Linked DNA regions of Homo sapiens. The protein of the gene in region 2 purifies or fractionates together with the protein of the main gene of each other region. This does not show direct contact. Each region holds a gene or a part of one and is shown on either strand. Other genes may lie near its edges.

The links.
Region 1: the proteins of PLEKHM2 (region 2) and ZDHHC8 fractionate together in Homo sapiens (co-fractionation; one large-scale study listed by BioGRID). This does not show direct contact.

Annotation. Positions count from the first base shown.
Region 1 is NC_000022.11:20,145,156-20,148,507, forward strand, and holds the end of ZDHHC8 (palmitoyltransferase ZDHHC8), read left to right. Parts: intron 1-73; coding exon 74-245; 3' UTR 246-1,865; coding exon of another isoform or gene 1,866-2,076; 3' UTR 2,077-2,852; downstream 2,853-3,352. Other genes in the region: CCDC188 (coiled-coil domain-containing protein 188), read right to left, coding at 3,310-3,352. UniProt on the Homo sapiens protein: Palmitoyltransferase that catalyzes the addition of palmitate onto various protein substrates and therefore functions in several unrelated biological processes.
Region 2 is NC_000001.11:15,715,103-15,719,110, reverse strand, and holds part of PLEKHM2 (pleckstrin homology domain-containing family M member 2), read right to left. Parts: intron 2,875-4,008; coding exon 2,768-2,874; intron 2,405-2,767; coding exon 2,295-2,404; intron 1,219-2,294; coding exon 1,119-1,218; intron 574-1,118; coding exon 486-573; intron 1-485. UniProt on the Homo sapiens protein: Plays a role in lysosomes movement and localization at the cell periphery acting as an effector of ARL8B.

The DNA.
Region 1 (3,352 bases), on a different chromosome or scaffold from region 2:
GCCTCCTCCGTCCTCTGTCCCCGTGTTCGTGTGTTCACCGTGTGCATGTGTGTATGTGCTTGTTTTGATGCAGGGACCACCCTCAGCTGAAGACTCCCCCAAGTAAGCTTAATGGGCAGTCCCCGGGCCTGGCCCGGCTGGGACCTGCCACCGGCCCCCCAGGGCCCTCTGCCAGCCCTACACGGCACACGCTGGTTAAGAAGGTGTCCGGCGTGGGTGGGACCACCTACGAGATCTCGGTGTGAGGACTGACTGCCACACATCCGCCATGGTGCCACGGGGACCAGGACCCCACAGCGCACCCCCCCTCCCCACCAACTTCTCTGCCCCAGGGACCCGAGGCCACCCCAGCCTGGTGTGGACCCATCGGCGGGAGAGAGTGCCACGCCTCCACAGCTTGCCCCAAGCGCTCTGCCTGCCCGTCCACTCATCTGCCCATGGGGAAGTCGGCTCACTGGGACAAGGGCCACTGGGCTGGTCTGTGTCTGGGCCTGTCCCATGGCTGGGGCAGTGAGGGGGCCCAGTCAGCCTCTTTGGGGCACCCTCTCTCAGCCAGGCTTGGCCCACTGCCATCACCCAGCACCCCAGATCACCGCCAGGCCAGCCCCCAATGGTCCCCTTACGGACAGGTCCCAGAGATGGACAGAGGCACCCAGGGCCCCCACCGTCCTTCTGACACAGCCTGTGGGCTCCCGGACCGAGTGTCCCCCGCCAGGCTACTCCTAACTAACGCGTTGCCTTTCACGGACCCCGCTGGAAGCTTGTAGCTTGGCAAGGCTGATGCTTCTGCCCTGGCCTGCTCTGGGTGGTGGTGGATAGGTGGACAGACGGCCAGCCAGCCAGCTGTGGCCGGGGGCCCGGCTCCATGTGTCCCGTGTCTGTGTGCTGTGCTGCCGCGCCGTGTCTGATGTGTCAGTGCTCCGGCCGCCGCTGTCCCTTTCATCAAAGCCTTAACCTTTGCTTTATGCTCTTGTGGGAGGCGACGGGGGGGCAGGCGGGAGCAGGCACGGGGGTGATGCTGCCACAGGGGGCTGGTGACACCCAGAGCCCCCTCCCCAGCCCTCAGGCCCTCCCTGCCAAACTGGAGAACCCCACCCCAAGGCATGCCACGTCCGCAGCCCCGGCCTGGCTGCGGTGCTCGCGCCGTGGGAAAGCACACTGGGGAGGGGTCAGTGCTTCCCTTGGTGTCAGGGACCTGAGAGTAAGCACATGACAGCGTCTGCTTGCGTTGTGTCTGTTTTATGTTTTTATATCTACATCTATATATCTATAATTTTATTAAAAAAAAGAAAAAGAGTTATTTTGATTCTTTCCTTGGGCAAGGCCAGGGCTATTGCTGCAGGATCCCGAGTTAGGGGAGGGCAGGGGCCGGGCCCCAGAAGAGGGAGTGGCTGCTGTCTGGTGTGCAGGGGTCGGTGGGTTCCTCAGGGGCATTTCTGCCGACTTGGGCTGAGTCAGAGGCTTGGGAAGAGGGGGCGGCCGATGGTCTGTGGCTGGGAAGTGTGAGGGTCTCTCGCCTTGGGTCTGTGTCAGTTCTGGCAGTGACAGGGTGTTTGGGGGAAAGACTTGGGTCTGCCGCTACCCACAGGGGACTCTCAGGAACCCGAGAGCTTGGGGAGATGAAATGGGGGTGCATAGGGGCCACCTGTTGGCTCAGGGCCCTGTGGGGGCCGCTGAACCTGCTGGAACTCTCCTGCCTGCCACATGCCAGGGGCAGGGCTGAGGGAGTGTGAGGGATGCACAGCTGTTCAGGGCTGAGACATTCTGGGCTGGGGCTGTCCCAGCGTGGGAGGCGTGCGGGCTGTAGGGCCCCGAAGCTGACCTCCACCTTTCTGCTTCTCTCTCACGGACGCCGCGGCCCGCAGGGGGCGGATTGGCACCTGCACCCGTGGATGGGGGCGGCGTGGCCAGCCTTGGGTGCCTCCTGGGCTGCACCTGTGCCACCTTGGCCGCCCGGAGGACCGCCCACCACTGCGGGCCCCCTGGAGCCAGGCCGCCGGGGCACCCCCACGCGGGGCCATGTGCCGCCTGCACTTGGCTGCCTCCAGTCTTTTCCCCAGCCTCTCGGGGCCCTAGCAGGATGACAAGTAGGCGGCTCTGGGGCCCAGGACAGCCCAGCTGGGGACCCAGGAGGTCAGACTGCAGTGGACCCTGGGGCAGGGCTGGGGGTGGGCTGGGCTCTCTGCTCCACCAGCCACAGCTTGACAGATTCCCAGCCTGCCAGGGCCTGAGACCCTGTGTCCACATGACCTCAGGGAGTCCCCCACCTGCTGCAGGGGGTCCAGCACCCCACAGGGGGGCAGTCCCAGAGCTGTGGGGACCGGCACGACCTTTGCCCAGCCTCCCTACCCAACCAAGCACTTTAGACTAAGCCACTTCCTCCTCGGGGAGCCCAGGCCTCCGTGGGTTGGGCTGGGTGGGGGGGGGGTCTCAGGTTGCCCCTGAAGGTCTCTGCACTCCTCCTGCCCTTCCCCTGACACATGAACAGATGCCTTAACTTCCTGGAGCCACCAGCCTGGTGAGCCATTGGCCTCTGCCTGCCACCAAGGTCCTGTGGTCTTGGCCAGCTCCGCCTGGGCCCCACTGGGGCTGCCTGCACCCAGAGACGATGCCGGCGGGATCTCAGAGGGCCTGAGGCCCAAGCCCTGTGTCCTCCAGCAGTGGTACGGCCTGCGGCAGGGTGGCACTCCGGCCAGCCCTTCTCCGTCACAGGGTCCCTGTCCCTGGGTCCACCCTGGGCTGTGGCTCTACATCTCCCATTTGGGGACGAGAAAGCCACAAAACCATTCTCTATTGTTCTTAAGGGTACCCCTGCTAATTAATTCCCCAAATAAAATTTTTGGTGTTGATCAGCTCTGTCTACCAATGTGGTCCCCTGGACCGGACAGGGCCCTGGGTTGGGGAGGTGACAGGACCTGGGCAGGGAGGGTGGTGGCCAGGAAGGGAGGGGAGTTGCATGAGGGGCATGAGGTCAGTGGATCAGCAGGTTCAGCGCTGAAAACCTGACCTCTGAGGTCCCTGGGAGGGCCTGGCCCAGGGGGCAAGACCTGAGGACCCCCCAGTCCTTACTGCTGTTGCCTTTCAGTGGAGACCCTCCTAAGACGCCTTGGGGGGTCAGAGCCCCGTGCAGAGGGGCTGCCTTCTGGAGGGCAGGTAGGATGTGGGGTGGGAAGCCGGCCCTGAGCTGGGGTCTCCACCCTGAGGGACCCTCGCTGCAGGATCGCCTGGGCATCCCTCCCCCAATTTCCACAGAGACGTGCTCACCGGCCACTTATGTCATGATTCTATGTCCAGCCACAGGCCCAGCCCTCAGGACAGACCCCACCTCCACCCTTCTCTGCAGCTTCTGGCA
Region 2 (4,008 bases):
GAGGTGCCTGGGAGCCTCTTTGGCTCTATGTGGGCCAGCATCCCATTTGTACAGGGTGTGATGGGGAGAGAAACTTGAGAACTTGAAGAGGGTGGCTGAAGGCTCTTCATGGAGCTGATGACACTTTTCAGAACCCCAGAAGCACCAGGCTGAAACTGCCTTGTCCTTCTAACTCTTCACATCCTAAACATGAAGGCCAGTTCTTCTGGGCTAAGATACTCCAGGCAATGTGGCTTTTCTCCAAGTTGGATAGGGAGATAGGAAAAAGTCACCTGAACCAGGAATTCTTGCCATCACTTCTCTTCTCACTCAATTCGATGGACCCTGAAACCTTTCCCTCGCCCAAAAAAACAAGTTTTGCTCAAGCCCAGTCATACTCAACAAGCTCCCTCAACAAGACCTGAGAAATGAAGCCACCGCCCACCCTGCCCCCACCCTGCCCCCTCCTCTGCTTCCCACAAGCAGTGAGAGCCCTGGTGTCTCACCAGATCCAGCTCGAAACGAATGAACTCTAGCCCGGACACCAAGGTCAGGAAGAGCGTCAGGTGATCGTGGCTGCAGACCAGGGCATTCCTGCAAGACATGAGAAGCCACGATGGTGCCTCTGGGTCTGTTTACCAGCCTGGCCTAACCTTACCAACATACCAGCTGTGTTGAAATCTGACACGTGATGTCCTCCACCTTGGACGGCACCCAGCTTGATATAGCTGTTGCCCACCACCCTCTCAGCGATCTCCTACTGGGTTAGCAGCCACACTGCACTGTCCTGCCAGTGTCTTCAGAGATGGACGAGCACAAGGCTTGTCAGGCTCTCAGCAGCTGCTGTACACACTCTGTTCCTGCAGCAACCCCAGCAAAGGCTGAGCCAAAGCATGGGCACTGGTCAGGTCTGAAGCCTGGGAGGAGGACCAGGGAGCAGCAGAGACCCAGACTGTACCCAGGAGCCCAGATGGGACACCGGTGCTCCTGGTGAAGGCTACCCAGCTACTGGCAAGGTTCTAATGGCTCTCTGGCATCACTGATGTGGCACACTGTGCTGTCTGCATGACAAGAGCCTTTGGGAGGTAGCTGAAAGGGAGCTCTGAGGCTAGGGGAGACAGACCGTCCCAGACACTCACTTGACGTAGTACTTATGCAGCAGGCCCAGGTTCTCCTGGAACAACCGCAGGTAGCTCTCCAAGGAGTTCTCGTTGAGGGCCAGGTACAGCCAGGCACGGCCTGCAAACAAAGGCAGGAGTAACCGGCAGGAAGGCCTCTCAGACTGCTGGCTTTTATTTGCCAAGCAAGCGCAGAAAGGAAAGAAAGAGCAGGTAATGGGACCAGGCACTTCAGTGGCCTTTGTGCTTGGTGGGGTACCATAACCCCTGAGTGCTTTATTTTCCTAGTCAGACCTCAGCATGTAGCTGGCCAGGAAATTCTGATAAAGAGGGCAGACTGCACACTTCAGACAGGTCAAGAAACGCCAGGACTCTGCACTGATCCTGTAGGCTAACAGTGATCCCAGCTCAGGGAGAGAAACCAGACTCCATAGCACGTGCTCAGGCTGGGATTCCATAAGAGTCCAGCTCTCGCTGGCAGCTCGCCCTCTTTCTCCCCATCACTGCTGTGCCAAAAAACCATCATATGTGGGGAGAAAAGAGGCCTCATGGAGGGGGCTGGCATTTTATAAATTTATTATTTATTACTATTATTTTATTTTTTGAGACAGAGACTCTGTCACCCAGGCTGGAGTATAGTGGTGTGATCACAGCTCAATACAGCCTTAAATTCCTGGGCTCAAGGGATCCTCCTGCCTTACCCTCCCAAAGTGTTGGAATTACAGGCATGAGCCACTGTGCCCGGCCATTTTCCTAAATCTTTAGAGATGGGGTCTCACTCTTTCTTCCAGGCTGGAGTGCAATGCTGTGGTCATGCCTCACTGCAGCCTCAAACTCCGGGGCTCAAGCCATCCTCCCACCTCAGCCCCTGAGTAGCTGGGACTATAGGTGTGTACCAAGACATCCATGTAATATTTAAATTTTTGTAGAGATGGGGTCTCACTGTGTTGCCCAGGCTGGTCTAAACTCCTGGCCTCAAGCCATCCTCCCTCCTCAGCCTCCCAAAATGCTGGGATTACAGGTGTGAGCCACCATGCCTGGCCTGGTGCTGGCATTTTAACACCCCACTGCTACTGGACACCACCAGGTAATTTGCCTCCCAGGGCTGACCCTGAGGGTAAACCTGGGACAGAGCCCCAAGCTACCCACCGAAGGTGGAGCTGGTCCCTTCCCCAGCGTCTCCTTGTGACTACTCACTGCGCCCCAGGTTGGTGGCCACGTGCTGCAGCACCTCGATCTGCTTGATGGCCTCTCTCCGAGTAAAATGCACCACGAGCACCCAGTAGCCAGAGGAGAGGTCTTGCAGTCTGAGAAAACAGGACAGGAGCTGCTGTGACCTGCATGGGGCCACCCTGGGAAGCTGCAGTCGGCTGGTCCAGCAGTGAGCGCAAGGCAGGAAGTGATGGATCCCCAGCAGGTCTCCCAGGCACCCAGCACACCTTCACACCATCATATCATTTGTGGCAAATCCTCCCTCCATCATTTATGTCTGCCCAGAGATGATTTACTGGGGTAACTACAGAGAGACTGTGGCCCACTTGAGTGGGACAAATCCCTTTCTGCCAAGGGGAGAGAAGAAAGAAAAGGCAGAGAGGCTAAGGGTTTCTCTGTGGAGGCTACTCATGGCCTGGGTTGTGCTCCGTCATCTTTGGAAACTTCCTCCACCTTACCCGTACAGCAGGGCGTGGTCCAGGTGCTCACACAGACGCTGTAGGACCTTGTCATGGTTCCGGATGGCAGGGATCTCATCCTCACATGCAGCAAAATAGCTCTGCAACTGAAAGAAAAAAAAACACCTCCAAATCAGAAATGGATTAAGAGGAAGGCTACAAAAGTTCTGGAATCAAGAAGGTAGCTAAAAAAAATTAGTCAAATGGTGTATCCACAATGACCAGCAGAGACGTCTACCTCAAACCACCCCTGTCCCAGCTGCTGCTCTGGCACTGGAGGTTCCAGCAGGCAACAGCTGTATCTTTACAGCCCAGTCCCCCAGAGGCACCCAGTCAGCAGTCCGCACAGTGACAACTTGAGGCTGGAGGGATCCACTGTCCATGCATAGGTCTCAAGTGGTGGCAAGCTTCAGGCCAGGGCCACAGCATGGCACAACTTCAGGGGCACTATGTACAGTGCTGTCTAGACCAATGCCACACAAACCCAGAGTTGGGGCATTGATACAGAGAGCGCTAGACGTATTTTCCTCCCATTGTCAACAGACCTTTAAACTTTGCTTATGTTATTGTTTTGCCCTATTGAGAAAGTTTTAATTTTTAGGCAGTCAAATCTGTCCATCTTTTCCTTTATAGTTTCCCATTTTTCCCAGTCATATATTAGAAAAGTATCTTTTTTCTTTTCTTTTTGGTTGTTTGTTTTATTGAGACAAAGTCTTGTTCTGTCGCCCAGGCTGGAGGGCAGTGGCATGATCTCGGCTCACTGCAGCCTCCGCCTCCTGGGTTCAAGTGATTCTCCTGCCTCAGCCTCCCGAGTAGCTGGGATTACAGGTGCCCACCACCATGCCCAGCTAATTTTTTATCTTTAGTAGAGACGAGGTTTCGCCATGTTGGCCAGGCTGGTCTCAAGCTCCTGACCTCAGGTGATCCACCCACTTTGGCCTCCCAAAGTGCTGCGATTACAGGCGTGAGCCACTGTGCCCGGCCTGTTTGTTTTGAGACAGGGTCTCACTCTGTCATGCAGGCTGGAGTGCAGTGGTGTGATCACGGCTCGCTGCAGCCTCAATCTCCTGAATTCAAACAATCCTCCTTCATATCACAGTGGCCCCACTTGGAGCTACCCTCTGCATATACTAAGGGCCGATGGACTGGGGCACCTGCCCCACCAGCCTTCTTGCCAGCCTTCTTGACATGGAATACTAGAATTGCCTGCAATGCTGGATATGGATCTAGGTGCATGCAAG